3 linked regions of the Homo sapiens genome follow. The protein of the gene in region 3 interacts with the protein of the main gene of each other region in a biochemical or structural test. Each region holds a gene or a part of one and is shown on either strand. Other genes may lie near its edges.

What was found. Proteins that work in one complex are often made in the same cells at the same time.
Region 1: the proteins of ALK (region 3) and ZC3HC1 form a complex in vitro, tested with the Homo sapiens proteins (one study listed by BioGRID).
Region 2: the proteins of ALK (region 3) and ALKAL1 form a complex in vitro, tested with the Homo sapiens proteins (one study listed by IntAct).

Annotation. Positions count from the first base shown.
Region 1 is NC_000007.14:130,017,768-130,020,390, reverse strand, and holds the end of ZC3HC1 (zinc finger C3HC-type protein 1), read left to right. Parts: intron 1-1,658; coding exon 1,659-1,727; 3' UTR 1,728-2,099; downstream 2,100-2,623. UniProt on the Homo sapiens protein: Required for proper positioning of a substantial amount of TPR at the nuclear basket (NB) through interaction with TPR.
Region 2 is NC_000008.11:52,541,407-52,548,446, reverse strand, and holds part of ALKAL1 (ALK and LTK ligand 1 precursor), read left to right. Parts: intron 1-6,001; coding exon 6,002-6,055; intron 6,056-7,040. UniProt on the Homo sapiens protein: Cytokine that acts as a physiological ligand for receptor tyrosine kinase LTK, leading to its activation. Monomeric ALKAL1 binds to LTK, leading to LTK homodimerization and activation.
Region 3 is NC_000002.12:29,225,575-29,232,614, forward strand, and holds part of ALK (ALK tyrosine kinase receptor isoform 1 precursor), read right to left. Parts: intron 6,875-7,040; coding exon 6,730-6,874; intron 3,493-6,729; coding exon 3,310-3,492; intron 2,099-3,309; coding exon 2,000-2,098; intron 1,501-1,999; coding exon 1,348-1,500; intron 1-1,347. UniProt on the Homo sapiens protein: Neuronal receptor tyrosine kinase that is essentially and transiently expressed in specific regions of the central and peripheral nervous systems and plays an important role in the genesis and differentiation of the nervous system.

The DNA of each region.
Region 1 (2,623 bases), on a different chromosome or scaffold from region 3:
CTCCAGAGGCTGAGGCAGGAGAATTGGGAGGTGGAGGTTGCAGTGAGCCGAGATCGCACTACTACACTCCAGCGTGGGCAACAGAGTGAGACTCCCTTTCAAAAAAAAAAAAAAAAGAAAAAAGTGTATACTATTTTTTCAACTCAGGTTTCTTTCAACTTTGTCACTCTATTAACTAAATTTCCCTCAGTCATTAGTAAGAGTTCAAACTTTTTCCTCCTGGAACTTATTGAAACATCCTCAAAGAGGATAGATTTTTAAAAAACTGTGAAAGTGGGCCGGGCGCAGTGGCTCACGCCTGTAATCCCAGCACTTTGGGAGGCCGAGGCAGGCAGATCATGAGGTCAGGAGATCAAGACCATCCTGGCCAACATGGTGAAACTCCATCTCTACTAAAAATACAAAAATTAGCTGGGCGTGGTGGCATATGCCTGTAATCCCAGCTACTCAGGAGGCTGAGGCAGGAGAATCGCTTGAACCAGGGAGTCAAGAGGTTGCAGTGAGCTGAAATGGCACCACAGCACTCCAGCCTGGCGACAGAGCGAGACCTGTCTCAAAAAAAAAAAAAAAAAAAAAAAAAACCTGTGAAAGCGTCATATGAGAAACTGGAGGTAACTGTGGATCATCTTGCTAGACATTCTTTGTACTCTCACTGAGACCCTTTCTGCGTGGAATACTTGCTCTTCATTGTGACTCTCAAAGGCAGACAGAACCAAGTGTTCTGATTCACCAAGAGCTTTTGTCTCCTAATGAATTACTTTGTCTCCCTTTACCACCATTTCTCAGAATCTCAGAGTACTTCATTGGCATGATCAGATGGCACTGCGATTCTTCCTATTATTAGCACTGCTGGCTAAAACATAAAAGCGGTGAAGACCAAGGCCAGAGCTTAAACTCATAGGGGTCATTCAACTCTGTTTTTATTAGTTGTCCTTGGTTTATACTGTTAACCTCAGCTAGGCATCACATTAAGTATAAGTACTTATTCACAATAAATAATGAACTAGGGCCAATTCAGCATCATGAATGAAAAACCAGTGCAGGCCGGGCGTGGTGGCTCACGCCTGTAATCCCAGCACTTTGGGAGGCCGAGGCAGGCGGATCACGAGGTCAGGAGATCAAGACCATCCTGGCTAACACGGTGAGACCCCCATCTCTACTAAAAATACAAAAAATTAGCCAGGAGTGGTGGCGGGTGCCTGTAGTCCCAGCTACTGGGTGAGGCAGGAGAATGGCGTGAACCCGGGAGGCAGAGCTTGCAGTGAGCCGAGATTGCGCCACTGCACTCCAGCCTGGGTGACAGAGTGAGACTCCGTCTCAAAAAAAAAAAAAAAAAGAAAAACCAGTGCAAAACATGTGCTGTACTAACGGCAAGTCAGAAGTGTCATCCTCAAGTACAAAGATGAGGACAGATACAGATGCCTGAAGGGAGGATATGAGCCGTGTCTTAGAGGCTCAGAGTGTGTTAACAGGAGTCTGACAGTAGAACGTTGGCCCCTCGATCTTTAGTCTGACTTTAGGTATACATTATGTATAGCATACTACAAAATGAATTTTTACTTAGTCCTAGACATATCCAGATCATTGTGGGACAAATGATCTATCCTTTGTCTCTATAAAAGAACGTAATCACTAATAATAAGCTTTTCTACCTACAGAGTCTCTCTGAGAAATCAAGGAAAGTATTCCGAATATTTCGGCAGTGGGAATCTCTGTGCTCATGCTGAAGATACTCCAGCGCCTTCCTGGAGATAGCTGGAATGAGAGTGACTTTTTGAAAAATTAAGGCTGAGTTCCTTTCGGTCAGCTGACACTAAGTTTTTCCTGTTCTGGGTTAATCATAAGGAGCCCCCTGCCATAGCAAAGGCAGTGAGTGTCAACTATCTGCATCTGGCTGAGAGAGACCCGTTTCCTTTCAGGGATGTGGACAGGGTAAGGGCAGCAAGCATGGTTCTGTTAAAGGAGTGTGGGATTAACAGACTAGAAGGAAGACTAAGGACCTGACCACCCATTTCAGCATCTTCAATGTGGAGCAGTGTTCTGAGGACTCTTCTATCCTAGGACTATGACAGTGTGTATTAATAAAATATTTGCTAAGATTCTCATTGTTGGAGAACTGTTTTCCCCCTTGCCCTGTGGGCCGGAGAAACTTCAGTGGAACATTCAACTTTTGATTTTCAGATTGGCTGCAAAGCCTAAAATTTGTGATTCCAGTCAAGGAGGTATAATCTTTCCTAAACCAAAAGCAAGATGATTTTCATTATGCCACCAGGAAATTTCCTGGTGTGTTATAGTGAATGGTCAACTGATAATTTTCTCCTTGCTTTGATAATAACAGAATAAAACAATGTAATGGGGAGGAAGGCACTTCAGAAGAGACCCCTCTCCATGTGCCATTGAATGCATGAGTCCCCCAGTTGGGCTTCCCCAAGACTCGTTGCTTTTGGGGGATCATCAGTTTTTGTGGTAGAGAAGGTGGACCCTGAACTGCCCACTGATAAAGTAACCATGACCTAGCAAAGGCTAGAAAGTGATTATTCTCTGATATGCCATGTTTTTCGTCACTGAGATTGTTTTGTTTTATACTTTTGTACTGAAGTATTTTAAAGAAAATAACACATAA
Region 2 (7,040 bases), on a different chromosome or scaffold from region 3:
ATCTTACAGTGCTATAGAACACTAGCACTTCTTCCTCATATCTAGTTGTCATTTGAAGCTTACATTTTATTTTATTTCTTCTTCTTTTTTTTTTTTCTTTTGAGACGGAGTCTCGCTCTTGTCGCCCAGGCTGGAGTGCACGATCTCAGCTCACTGTAACCTCTGCCTCCTAGGTTCACGTGATTCCCCTGCCTCAGCCTCCTGAGTAGCTGGGATTACAGGTGTGTGCCACCATGCCCGGCTAATGTTTTTGTATTTTTAGTAGACACAGAGTTTCACCATGTTGACCAGGCTGGTCTTGAACTCCTGACCTCAGGCGATCCACCGGCCTCGGCCTCCCAAAGTGCCGAGATTACAGGCATAAGCCACTGCACCCGGCGTAAAGTTACATTTCAGACTTATGCCGTCCAACACCACATCCACAAGCCATGAGGCTACTGAGCACTTGACATGTGGCTGGTTCAAACTGAGATGTGCTGAATGTGCAAAATACACCCTGAATTTTGAAAACTTAGTGCAAAAAAGTAAAGTATCTCATTAGTAATTAATATTGTTGAAAACAAGTTGAAATGGTAACACTTTGGCTATACTTAGTTAAAATAAATTAATTTTAATTTTAATTTTAGAAATGAGGTCTCACTATGTTGCCTGGGCTGGTCTCAAACTCCTGGGCCCAAGCGATCCTCCAGCCTCATCCTCCCAAAGTGCTGGGATGACAGGCGTGAGCCGCTGTGACTGGCCAAATTATTAAATTAATTCACACATTTCTTTTTACTTTTTGAATGTGGCTACTAAACATTTAGAATTACATGTGTGGCTCCCATTTATCTCATTGTAGATGCTGCTCTCTTAGAACATTTTCCATCAGAGAGAAATCAACTAGTTTCATTGTTTGCGGGGAGTTTTCTTTTTACTTAGTTATTTATATTTATTTATTTATTTATTTTGAGATGGAATCTTGCTCTGTCACCCAGGCTGGAGTGCAGTGGTGCGATCTTGGCTCACTACAACCTCCACCTCACAGGTTCAATTGATTCTCCTCCCTCAGCCTTCCGAGTAGCTGGGATTTCTGGCACACGCTACCACGCTAGGCTAATTTTTTTGTATTTTTAATGGAGATGGGGTTTCGCCATGTTGGTCAGGCTGGTCTCGAACTCCTGACCTCAGGTGATCCACCTGCCTCAGCCTCCCAAAGTGTTGGAATTATGGGCGTGAGCCACCATGCCCGGCCTGGGGTAATTTTCTTATATTCAGTTGTTTATTTAATATTTTGTGGATCAAAAACTACTGCGTGCATCTAGTCACTAAATGCAAATTCATTTTCAATCAGTTTTTTATTGAAAAATTAATACAGATTTATATTCAAAAAAGTTAAAAGTAATAAAAAGGGTGTGCATGGAAAAATATCTCTTCTCTCCACCCCAGAATTCTGCTCCCTGGCGCCTCCCACCATTTTAATTTGTTTTTACTGCAAATAGGAGTGTGCTGCAGGGCAGGCATTGGCAAACTTTCTTTAGAAAGGGCCACATAGTCAATATTTTGGGCAGATAATCAGTGTGCAAAGAAAAGTCAGCACAGAGACAAAGGATCTCTCAGCAAGGCAATCTTTACTTTCTGCAGAAAGGGTGCCCCTCACAGATGGAACAATGGCAACAATACACCTGAACAAAGGAAAAGCAGACATATTTATCCCTTACGCATTTGGTTTGTCCTTACTGCTGTGTCCTGCATCCATTGGCTGGAGCTGGACCTCACAGTCTTAAACTGATACCCGATTTGCTAATAACCTAAAATTTCCCTAAATAGGTAAGTGCAAGGGAGAACCAAGAAGAAAAGGAAGTTGCTTATGAAAGGTTTAAGGAAGCAATAACATTTCCAAATAAGGAAGGGGCATAAGCTATGAGCTAAGACTTGCCTGGGCCTGTCCAGACATGCCTGAGTAAGCCAAAGCAACTAACTGGGCTAAAGTATGAGAACTAATAGTTGATAGGAGGCTTTGGAGTAAGGAGCTATTATTCCTAGCGTCTATTATTTTATTTTTAAAGCAAGACGAACTTTAATGAGGAACTTTTCTGCTTTCTACAGTGAGCCATAGTATCTGTGCAACAACTACTCAGTTCTGCCCTTGTAGTGAAAAAGCAGCCACTGGCGACCCCTAAACAAATGGATGTGGGCATGTTGCAGCAGAGCTTTATTCACAAACACAGGAGCAAGCTGGATCTGCCTCAGGAGCTGTTGTTTGCTAGCCCCTGCATAGGCCAGTGCTAGTCAATACAGTTACAGTCACGTGCCACAAAAGGACGTTTCTGTCATCTACAGACTGCATATACCATGGTGGTCCTATAAGATTATAATACTGTATTTTTACTATTCCTTTTCTATGTATAGATATGTTTAGATTCACAAATACTCACCATGGTGTTACAGCTACCTACAGTATTCAGCACAACAGGTTTTGTAGCCTAGGAGCAATAGGCTATACCATATAGCTGAGTGTGCAGGAGACTCTACCACCAAGGTTTATGTAAATGCACTCTATGATGCTCCCACAATGGAGGAATCTCCTAACGATGCATTTCTCAGAACATATTTCCATCATTAAACAGCACATGACTGTAAACCTTTTAACTTATCTGTCTGCATCTATTATTTGCCCTCTGTACTGTAAACCAAAAAGTATCTGAGACAGGTCTCAATCAATTTAGAAAGTTTATTTTGTCAAGGTTAAGGATGCACCCATGACACAGCCTCAGGTGGTCCTGCTGACATGTGCTTAAGGTGATTGGGGTATAGCTGGCTTTTATACATTTTAGGGAGACATGAGACATCAATCAATATGTGTAAGATGTACATTGGTTGGGTTCAGTAAGGTAAGACAAGTTGAAGGGGGATGGGGGAGGGGAAACGGGTTTGAGGGGAAAGGGGTGTGTGCAGGGAGGGAGGTGGGTGTGGGGGGGGTTCCAGGTCAAAAGTAGATAAGAGACAAAAGTTTGCATTCTTTTGAGTCTTTGATCAGCCTTCCACTGAGTACACAATTTAGTGTGGCTCAGTGAATCTGCATTTTTACATAAACAATAGGGCAGAGGAAGCAATCATATGCATTTGTGTCAGGTGAGCCTCAGAGGGATGACTTTGAGTTCTGTCTGTCCTCCATCCACAAAGAATTTTCTTGTGGGCAAATCGTGAGGGATGTATGTAGCTTTTTATCTTTGTAACTATCTTATTTAGGAATTAATGGGAGGCAGGTTTGCCTAACATAGTTCCCAGCTTGACTTTTCCCTTGGCTTAGTGATTTTGGGGTCCTGAGATTTATTTTCCTTTCACAATACTTAGGCATAATTGTTTTTTATTATTAAAAATAGTTTATGCTGGGTTTGGTGGCTCGTGCCTCTAATTCCAACACTTTGGGAGGCTGAGGTGGGAGGATCGCTTGAGCCCAGGTGGTGGAGGCTTCAGTGAGCTGTGATCACACCATTGCACCCCAGCCTGGGCAACAGAGCAAGACCCTGTCTCAAAAAAACAAAATTTATTTATTAAAAAATGTTTGAATGGTGTATATAATTTTGTTTATTTTTATTGTATGTCTTTAGAGTATGCAGCATAATTTTTGATATATGTATACAGAGTGCAGTGGTTACTGTGGTCAAGCAAATCATATCCATCATCTCACAGTTGCCCTTTTTTTTTGGTGGTGAGAACTCCTGAACTCTGCTCTCTTAGTCATTATCCCATATACAACACATCATTATTCCCTGCAGTCCTTCTGCCATGCATTAGACCTCTAGACTTGCTCATCCTACCCATCTGCAGCTTTGTATCCTTTGGCCAATTCTCCCCATTCCCTCCCTCCCTCAACGGTCTTTTGAAAATAGCTTAACCGTACCATTCCTTTGCCTAAAGCCTTTTGACTTCTCATCACCCACAGAATTAAGCACAAAGTTTGTGTACGACTTAACTCTAAAGCCTACCTGCACCTGCAGCCTTGTCTCACCCACCTCTTCTTCAGCAGCTCTGGACATTTCCCCCAATACTTGAACACGCTGCAGTCTTCCCCATTCCCATCTCTTCTTACCTTCTTATCTCTGGCTTGTTACTTCGGGTGTCAACTTAAACACCACTTTTCTGTTTCAGCTAAATCAATCTGTTGTACATTCTTGTATTCCTATGTGATGTTTGTGTTTTGAAGTTAAAATTCAAGTGTATTGAAATTCTGGTTTTCTTGGTGGGCTGTACTGAGTACAAGGAGGCACTGATGTTTCCATTTGAGCGGTAGCAACCCTCTTGGCTTCCTATTCCTTGAACATGTGCCAGGTGCCTCTGCCAGCAAAGCCGGGTTGTACAGGGGGACAAGACCGCATCCCTTTCCTCAGGAAGCCATAATTGTGGGGAAGACAGACACACACGGTGCCCCATCATGCTAACCAGAATGTGACATCTGCTTTGATAGAAGTTATAAAATGTGCTATGGGGTGGAGATGAGGAGGGTAATTTACTTAAAATATGTAATTTTCTACACACCTGAGTGTCATCATTGTCACAGGGTCTAGAGATTAAAATTATACTCTAAAATGCTTTTGGAAATAGAATTATTTATAAAGTCTTTGAGCATGCCTTAACCACAGTAGGTGCTTCTGCTGTACTCAGCTCATTCATTTTTCAGAAAGCACCAGTGTAACTACCTGGCCCAAATATTGACACCACAGAAGCCAATTTGTTGTTTTTGGTTTCTGAGAAGTACAGGGGAAAAGACCTATGTTCGGGCTGGAGCATTATTGAAGAGAAGAGGAAAGGTTTATATGAAGTACTTTCATTTTACTGCTGCTTTGTTTTTCAGGATTAGTTTTAATTGTTTGTAAAGTGCAGGTGTTCATTGTCAAATGGTGGGGGAGCTCCGATCTCTCTGCATTCCTGCGCACCCACACAATCACGCCCTGAACCAGGCCCTGAACTCACATAAGGCTGCCCTGAACTGGGGAGCTCCCTGCACAGGGAAGTGTTCCCACGTCCCTCAGGAGCTCATGGCATGTAAGGAACAGTTAGAATCCCTGCATCTGCATTTACCAAGCCTCAGTCACCACTGCCTTGTGCTGGCGAAGTCACACTCATCACCGTGATGGCTCAGACTCTCCTAGAGGGGGATGACAAACCTTCACTTCCCCATTATATTCTTAAAATGTTGTAAGTTTAAATGTATACCTACCAACAAACCTTGAGGCTCAACTATTTTACTAAAGTTTAAGTTTTCTCTTCCTTTGAAAGAGTTGCACATGCTCCCGATTGTTTGTATAAATTGCATTTTCTGGATGGTGTAGTTTTAGTGAGTAGAAGGTAAAGCCTGAGATACAATTTTATTTTTAAATTTTATTATGTATTAAGTGCAAAACCTTCCAAGTGGGAGAGATCATGACTTATAGTATATTTCTGTTTGTTTGTTCTGGCTACTGGGGAGAAAGAAGATTATGGGGAGGAGAAGAGGGGTTAGGAGGCCACTGCCAAGGCATGGTCACAAAAGGACGATGGCTTGGGCCAGACTCGTTGAGGGAAGGAGAAAGAAGTGAGTGGGTCTGGAATAATTTGTTGAAGGTGAAATACATAAAACTAACTCATGGTTTGGGTGTAGGGGTGAGGGAAAAAGGAAGTCAAGCATAACTTCTTGAGCTGGGGCCTGATCAAGAGTGATGCCACTTCAGTCAGTCTTCAGTGGACTGAGGAACACGGGAGAAACAGGTCTGGGCAGAGGAAAAGGAGACCTTCCATTGCGGCTGTGCACTTTTGAGAGATCTGTAAGGTACCCTTCATGCCGTAGAGCAAGCAGTGAGTTGTACTGCAGTTTTGGAGCCCAGGAAATGGTCAGGGCTGGAGAAACCAGTTTGGGATCAGCTAAATAAACTGTCACAAATCCATGTGTTTAGTGCCTTATTAAGTAATTAGCATATTAAGGATATTTTTAAATGGGAGAAATGCATTCAATAAATTCTGATGGTTTTTTTTTTCTTTTCAGAAATATTCCCAAGAGACTCTAACTTAAAAGACAAATTCATAAAGCATTTCACAGGTAAGTACAAAATGTATCAGTGATTCCATTAACTAAATAAAAAGACTGTGTGCAGAATACTATGTCAGGCACTAGGGATATGAAAATAAATGTCTGTAGGGGACTCATGGTCCAGTTGGGGAGATGGACGGATGCTACTAACTTGTGTTAACTGTAATGTAAACCAGCCCTTAATAAGTAATAGAAGTATGAGCCACTTTTTAAGGATACACAGGAAGTGAATAAAGTGGCCAAGAACTACCAAGAACGGCTTGTAGTAGACACAGTATTTAAGGTGGGCTTTAAGGGATGAATAAGGCTTTCCCGTGGTGAGGGAGACCTTCTGTTCAGAAGGAGTGCATTGAGTAAGCCATGAAGACACCGGGTGTGGTTTAGGCAAGGACAGGTGTGCACAGACTGTGAGTGGGCTTAGGTAGGGACGTATTTGGCCCTGGTCAAATATGTGGCTGGAAAGGTAGGTTGGAGTCATGTTGTGGATAATCTTAAGTGGCATGCTAGGGAATTCAGACTATGTTCCCCAACCAGGTGGGGGTAGGGAGGGAGGGGGCAATATAAATTTTTTGAACAGGGAGGGACAGACTTTCATATGCTACATCTTTTAAAAATATATTTATTTATTATTATTATTTTTTTCTGAGACAGAGTTTCGCTCTTGTTGCCCAGGCTGGAGCGCGGTGGCACGATCTCGGCTCACTGCCGAGTTCAAGCTATTCTCCTGCCTCAGCCTCCCAAATAGCTGGGATTACAGGCATGTGCCACCACACCTGGCTAATCTTTTGTATTTTTAGTAGAGATGGGGTTTCACCACATTCGCCAGGCTGGTCTCAAACTCCTGGCCTTAAGTGATCCACCTGCTTTGGCTTCCCAAAGTGCTGGGATTACAAGTGTGAGCCACCACGCCCGGCCAAAAATTTTTTATTTTTGAGACAGGGTCTGGCTCCATCACTCAGGCTGGAGTTCAGTGGTGAGATCATGGCTCACTGCA
Region 3 (7,040 bases):
AGGTCCCACTGGGGTATTGACAACCACACCAGGTCTCCTTTGAGTTGGTCCCAAGTCAGAAATAACCTCCCCCACTGAGACAAAAACTACTTGCTCCTTCCCATCGCTGGAGACCTTGTCACACTTTTCTTTTCAGGGGACCATGAGCAGGACCAGACTCATCCCGATTTGACAGGCTTTTAGCAGTAGCTTTTGGGTGAAGGGAAATTTAACAGGGATGAATATCAGTGGCGGGATGTTGGTTTGAAACATGAGCTGCACAACTATGGGGTGAGGATGGAAGGTGAAACGAAAGTGGATCTGGAAGAGATGTGGGGGCCGCAGGTGACCAAACAACAGGGTGCGCTGTAAGTAACACCCTCTGAGGCTAAGTTACTTCCTTGTGGCCCTGAGGCACTGGGCTCACAGTGGGGAGGGGTCCTGTGCCCTCTGCTGGCCAGACCACACGGAGGTATCGTGCTTGGTACTGGACACTACATTTCAAAAGGGACATCGATAGTGGAACACATGCAGAAGAGGGACACTGGTGGGGCGGGGGAAGAGACACAAAACTGCATCTTGTATGAACTGCTGCAAACAAATGGGTTATTTAGTCTGAAGAAGAGTTAAAGGAGGAGGATGGGGCCAGGTGCGGTGGCTCACACCTGTAATCCCAGCACTTTGGGAGGCCGAGGCGGGTGAATCACCTGAGGTCAGGAGTTTGAGACCAGCCTGGCCAAAAGGTGAAACCCTGTCTCTACTGAAAATATGAAAATTAGCCTGGCATGGTGGTGGGCGCCTGTAGTCCCAGCTACTCAGGAGGCTGAGGCAGAAGAATTGTTTGAACCTGGGAAGCGGAGGTTGCAGTGAGCCGAGACCACACCATTGCATTCCAGCCTGGGCAACAACAGTGAAACTCCGCCTCAAAAAAAAAAAAAAAAAAAAAAAAGAGGAGGAGAATGGGAGCACTGTCTTCAAACACTGCACATGCACAGCTGCTGCTGTAAGGAAACCTAGGAGAGGAAGGTTAAGGCAACAGGTCCCCAGCTCTGAAACTGCCCAAGGGAACAGAGAACCTTAGGAGCAGTAAGATCCCTGTCACTGGGCATGTTTAAGTGGAGGCAGGATGGCCCCTTGGTGGGGGTGGTAGAGGGCTTATTCTATAGTAGAGGATTTTTAAGACTCCTTCAGGAGCCATGACCCACCTTTCACACAGTGGTCAGAGCACTCGAGCTGTGGCAGGTAGGGGAGGGACAGAAAGTTTACAAAACCGAATCCAGGGTGTTCTGGAACCCAGAAACCATTTGTGGTCATGGGCCAAATCTCAGGCTATGGGCCCCTCTGCCTCCCCTGGCCCTGCCCCCTTACCAATGCAGGAGACGCCATCCTCAGCCAGCACCGTCCCGTGGTCACAGAAGCAGATGACCTTGTGGCTTTCAGGGTCCATGTGACATTCGTCTACCTCACAGTGACTGCAGTTTAGATAATGCTTAATATTCACTTCCCCGTGGCCTTCCATCACTAGTGACAAGGAGGGAGGGTCAGTCTTGGGCCGAGCCTGCCTCCCCACTCCCAGCCTCAGTACTATGTCTCCAGGTGGTCACTGTGGGTGCTCTGGTGGTCCCTGTTCCTAGGTCCCATAGCCACTGGAAGCACAACTGTGTAGAAGAGTCTTCCTGTGCATATAGAGAGTGCAGCGGAGGCAGCGGGCATGGGTGTCTATGGATGTTTGCTTTTGAGTCAGTGGTGGAGAGAAGCCCACGCACATGATCTTTAGGTTGGCTGGTGCAGGTATTGGGCTATTACTGTTACATTTCCTAGGATTCTGCCTCTGCATTCATATTAAAGCACACATCCTGACTTCTGGAAAATGTGGTGACCTGCGCCATAGGAAGCTTGCCTGCCAGGGACCCATAATTGTGCCTCTGTATCCTGGATACAGGTCAGAGACTCTGAGGTTTTAGCTTGGTGGGAGGACTGACCTAAGCAAGTTTGTTCTGCTGCCTGGCAGAGAAGCTACCTTTTAAAGCTGGGGTGTACAGGATGCCCAGTGGACTGATGAAGGAAACCCCATCTTCCCCATCCATTTCGGGGTCATTGTTTGAGGCTGCATTGCCGCCTGAGTAGCAAACCAGAGCAGAGTTTAACATGGGGGGTGGGTGCCAAAATCTTAACACACACACACGTCAGTGGGGCATGCAGCTCTGGCCAAAGTTAGGGGGTCACTGGGGACCTCAGGGGCAGGGATGCGGGGAGGGAAGGGAGGCTCAGGGCACAGAGGCTGCATGTGGGATTTGGCTCAGTAGATGCTGGGTGTGTGGCTAATTTCCCCTCAGGTCCAGGCCAGCTCCCACTCTGCCGGTGGCCCACTAAGAAGTGGTTAATGTGAGCAAGAGTCCAAAAAGTTCTAGTCTTTCCAGGCTGGGATATGCCCATGGTGCCTCTCCCAGGACTGGTCAGGATGGTAGCACTGAAGAGTTGCTCTTCAGCCCCATTGGGTCAGGGTTGGGGTGTGGCGGGCTGTGCGGATTGCGGGAAATGAGCCCCTGTGCCCTGAGGCTCCCGTCCCTCCTTTCATCTGGGGCTGGGCTATCTTTGGGCTCCCCCCTCGGGCTCCTCCCACCCACCCAGCTTGGAAAAGAAGAGCATGTGGTTAACACAAGCATCTTACACACAGCGTCAATGCAAAACACAGACACGAACACCACAGAGCATGCATGCATTCGTCCTAATCTGTGGGGAGCGGGGAGCCATCGTCTCCCAGCCTCTCAGCTTCAGAAGGCTCTGCTGACTGTGCTCTGAAGCCCAGACGAGGCAGCTGGGGTCAATGGGCAGCTGCTTGCTGAAGGGCTGGGCTAAGCCTGCCTGCAGTTGCCCTCGGGAATAGCTCCCATCAGCAGGCACAGCGGCGCCTTTCAGGAAGCTGGTGGGCTGAGGTAGGGAGCAGGAGTAAGGAGTCCATGAAACCACAAACCAGCCCCTTCAGGAGCTGGCTTGGCCAGGCCATCCAAGGGAGGCTGGGGGAGTCCTTATGGGTGACTCAGAGACTAGTCTGGCAAGCCAAAGCCTCTTTATCATCGACTTTGGGGGACATCAAGAATCACATGGGATCTTGATGCTGTCGCTGAGGAAGCCTGGAGGCAGGGTGCTGGCTCGAAAGCCAGCACCCTGCCTCTGGCTGGTCCAGGCAGGTCGAGAGGGAGGCGTGCAGTCACATCACAGTCCACACTTGGGCAGGCCAGGGGAGGGCAGGGGAGGGCAGGGCAGGGAGGTGAGGAGCCTAGGACTAAGCAGGGAGGGAGTGACACCTTGAACACGAATCATCTTTACCTATATATCCTCCGCCTCCTCCACCTGAGGAGCACCCCCCTCCACCCCCTCCGAAACCCCCTCTTGTCTCCCACCCCCACTTCTTCATGGCCTGGGGGCAGGAATGTCCTCCGGTGGCACCCTCCTGCAAAGATTTTCCGGCCCAGAGCAAGGAAGTGTTATCATTCCAGCCACCTCCACCACCTGCGGGAAGAGATAGGGAACCTGCGTGAGGATGCTGGCAAGGTTCAATTAGCCATGCTGGCCAGAGAAGCAGGATGCAGGACGCCTTGGAGGGCGCCCGCACCAGCTCCAGCTCCCGGGGCCCATCTTCAGTGGGGCCTGGGGGCTTCAGATCCACACTAGGAAAACCAGGAGGCTGCTTGCCCTAGGAGACCTGTTTGGCCACAGCTGAGTACACCCAGATGAGAGCGTGCCTTGTACCCCTGCTTCCTGCCAGTACTCTCTGGCTCAAAAGCAGGGGCTGTGCTTGGTTAAGGATGGGGGGACGTGGGCAGACAGGCAGCATGGCGACTAAACTCGTTCCTCTATCTTCTCTTCATGTCAGCCAAGCCCCGTAGCACTGGACCTTCGTTTCATTAACTGCCTCCCGTCCTAACGAGAAAAGGGACTCACCAGTCTTTGAGCAGCCACATGTCAAAACCTTGCACTAAAGTTCCTTGCAGGAATCCTGGACTAGGCTGACCAGAGAGCCCGTTGCTGTCTGTGAAACCCTGGGGAAGAACGCCCCATTCTGAGCCTGTGTTTCCTCACCTGTGGCTTGGGGATAATAAGACCCACCTGATGGGGTTGATGTTCCGCTCAAAGGAGACAGTGAGTGTACGAAATGCTCCACAAACTGCCAGGGGTGGGGAGCGTCAGGGGCTCGAGAGGCAGAACACACGCGTGCAGACAGCCTCACACCTGGGCTCAGCCTGCTTAGAGGTTCTCCAGGGCCAGGCGCTCAGGAACTGCTCCAAGGTCAGGAGCAGAAGCCCTGGTGGGTGGACGATACCCTGGCAACAAAGGCAGCCTCAGGGCTGTGCTTCCCAATGCCTGGGGCTGCTTTGGGCTCTTACAAAGGAAGCTATCTACAGAGCCGAGGTTGAATGTAGCCACAGGTTGACCACAAGAAATCTCTTCTGCTAACCTTTGAGATTCCAGGATATCCCCTATGCCTACTGTTCCATAGGACATTTGAATAGACATCTACAGTTGTCCCTCAGTATCTGTGGAGGTTCCAGGATCCCTCCATCACACCAAAATAAATGTCCCTTTATATAAAGTGGCATAGTATTTGCACATTCTCCTATAAAAAAATCATCTCTAGATTACATATAATACCCAATACAGGGTAAATCCTATGTAATAGTTATTGTATTATTTAGGGAATAAGTCTGTACATGTTCAGTAAAGACACAATCATCTTTTTTTTTTTTTTTGAGTATTTTTGATCTGTGGTTGGTTGAATCCCACGAACGCAGAACTGATGGATAGGAAAGGGTGGAGGTATTCTAAAAACCCTAAAACCCTTTCTGCTGCAGCAGATGATGCATGCTGGGGACCTGGAAATTGATGGTGGAAGGCAGAAACAGCAGTGTGTGTGTCTGCCGGAACCCTACGGGTGAACCGGCCTGGCAGGGTTTCTGGAAGCACTTGTGGCCCAGATTCTTTGGGACCCAGAGGGACCTGTAGGTGGGATGACTGTCTTGCTAGAAAGAGGAAGCCAGGTTTTGAAAATGAAGCTGAGGTCAGGAACAAGCTTGAATCTAGAATGGGGACAAGCAGAGCTGAGGCGAGGCCATCAGGCAAGCTGGGGGGACTTTGTTAGCCATGAAACCTCCAGGGGTGGGTGTTGAGCTTGGGTTTGTTTCGCTGTCCTCCCTTCTGCTCTCAGGGGAGGGTGTGGGCCTGTCAAGGCTGTTGTCATGTGGCAGAGAGAAGGCCCCTTAGGCGCGTTAGGGGCCAGAAGTTGGCGCTGGTGTTTGTGCACGGCTGTGAGTAAGCGCGTAATAAATAAATCAGAACGAGATGGACGGAGACCATGCGCTGTGCTTTCATCCTGCTCAGCCCCCAGCTGAGGAGGTTTCTGACCCCCATACCCGTTCTGCAGCCTTCGAGCAAATGTGTGGAAAGGAAAATAACCCATATCAAAATCAGAACAACGGTGTTTTAAAAATACGAATTGAGTCTGGCCAGGCGTGGTGGCTCACGCCTGTAATCCCAGCACTTTGGGAGGCCGAGGCAGGTGGGTCACCTGAGGTCAGGAGATTGAGACCAGCCTGACCAACATGGAGAAACCACGTCTCTACTAAAAATACAAAAATTAGCTGGGCGTGGTGGCGTGTGCCTGTAATCCCAGCTACTCGGGAGGCTGAGGCAGGAGAATCGCTTGAACCTGCAAGTCAGAGGTGGCATGAGCCGAGACCGTGCCACTGCACTCCAGCCTGGTGACAGAGCGAGACTCCGTCTCAAAAACAAAAAACAAAAAACAAAAATTGTCTCTATCACTAAACAGCTCGGCCCTGTTGAGAAAAAAAAAGTCATCATGCCTTGGTGAGCCCATTGGCTCTCCTGTAAAACAGGAATGGTATCTGCCTGGAAACCTGCAGGTTGTTTTGACAGCACATGTGCAACAGAGGCAGAGGTGCTTCAGGGTTTCTCGGGTGCTGGGCCTCGGTGCTGCAAACGTCACTGGAGATCCTCAGGGTGGACCCATGACTGTTTCTACTCTTCTATTCTAGCCGTCTCTCAATTGAGAGACAGTTTGCACATTTGTTTTAATTAATCCCAAATCTTAAATGCCTTCTAAGATCCTCCCACAGTCTGATTGTGTGGAAAAGAAAATACAAAAAGGAATTGCATTTTCTGTCTTTAGGGGTGGCTGACTTTAGAGGAATCAGGGAATTGACACTCTCTTCCCTGCCTGTCTCACATTTCTGTGCTTCTGGCTCCCATTAATGAGGGAGGAGAGCTCAGCCGTGGAGAGTCAAGTAAGAGATTTTCCAGCGGGGATACGCTTGGGTCTGGCAGCCCAGGGCCTGGAGGTCTGTACCATGGGGGTCTAGGAGGCCTGACATTGCCCAGATTTTTTTCACCTGCTCATATCCTAACTGGGGGGCCCATCTGCCCCTGGAGGAAGAAGGAATCTCAGGGGGAGGCTCTAACAATTGCAGGGAGGGCCAGCTGGCTGATTGACGGCTGCTCCCTGCCTCACTTTCTCAGTGACCTTCTACAAGTCCAAGCTCCAGGTCAGCAAGATGGCCTGCAGGGCTCCCAGGGTGCTGCCTGCCCTCCCTCCCTGGATATCGGTACCAATATTCAGAGCTCCTAGCATCCCAGGTGCCAGTGACTAAGATGCCCTCAGGCATGCGATGGCATCGGGGCCCAGCTGAAGGCCTGGGAGAGGTTCTGGGAGAGGGCACGCTTGCAGCGCTTTACCTGCGGCTCCGGAATTGCCGTTTAGCCCTAGAACCGAGGAGTTATTCTCCAGTCTCTCTGGGTGGAACGTGTCTGTCTTGGCCCCGTAGGCCCTGCCACCACCTCCGGCTGCAATGATCAGGGGCACCGGCACTCCATCCTTCATCTGACCAGGGGAGACATTCAGACATTGAGAAACCGAGCTGTGCTTCCCCCTGGAGCCCCTAAGCTCTGGTAAATTCAACCTGACTGAGGGTTTGCTGTTTTGGGGTGACCTGGTGACCTCTCAGTGGTCTGAGGTGGTTTGCGGGCTCTGAACCCTTGTTACAATA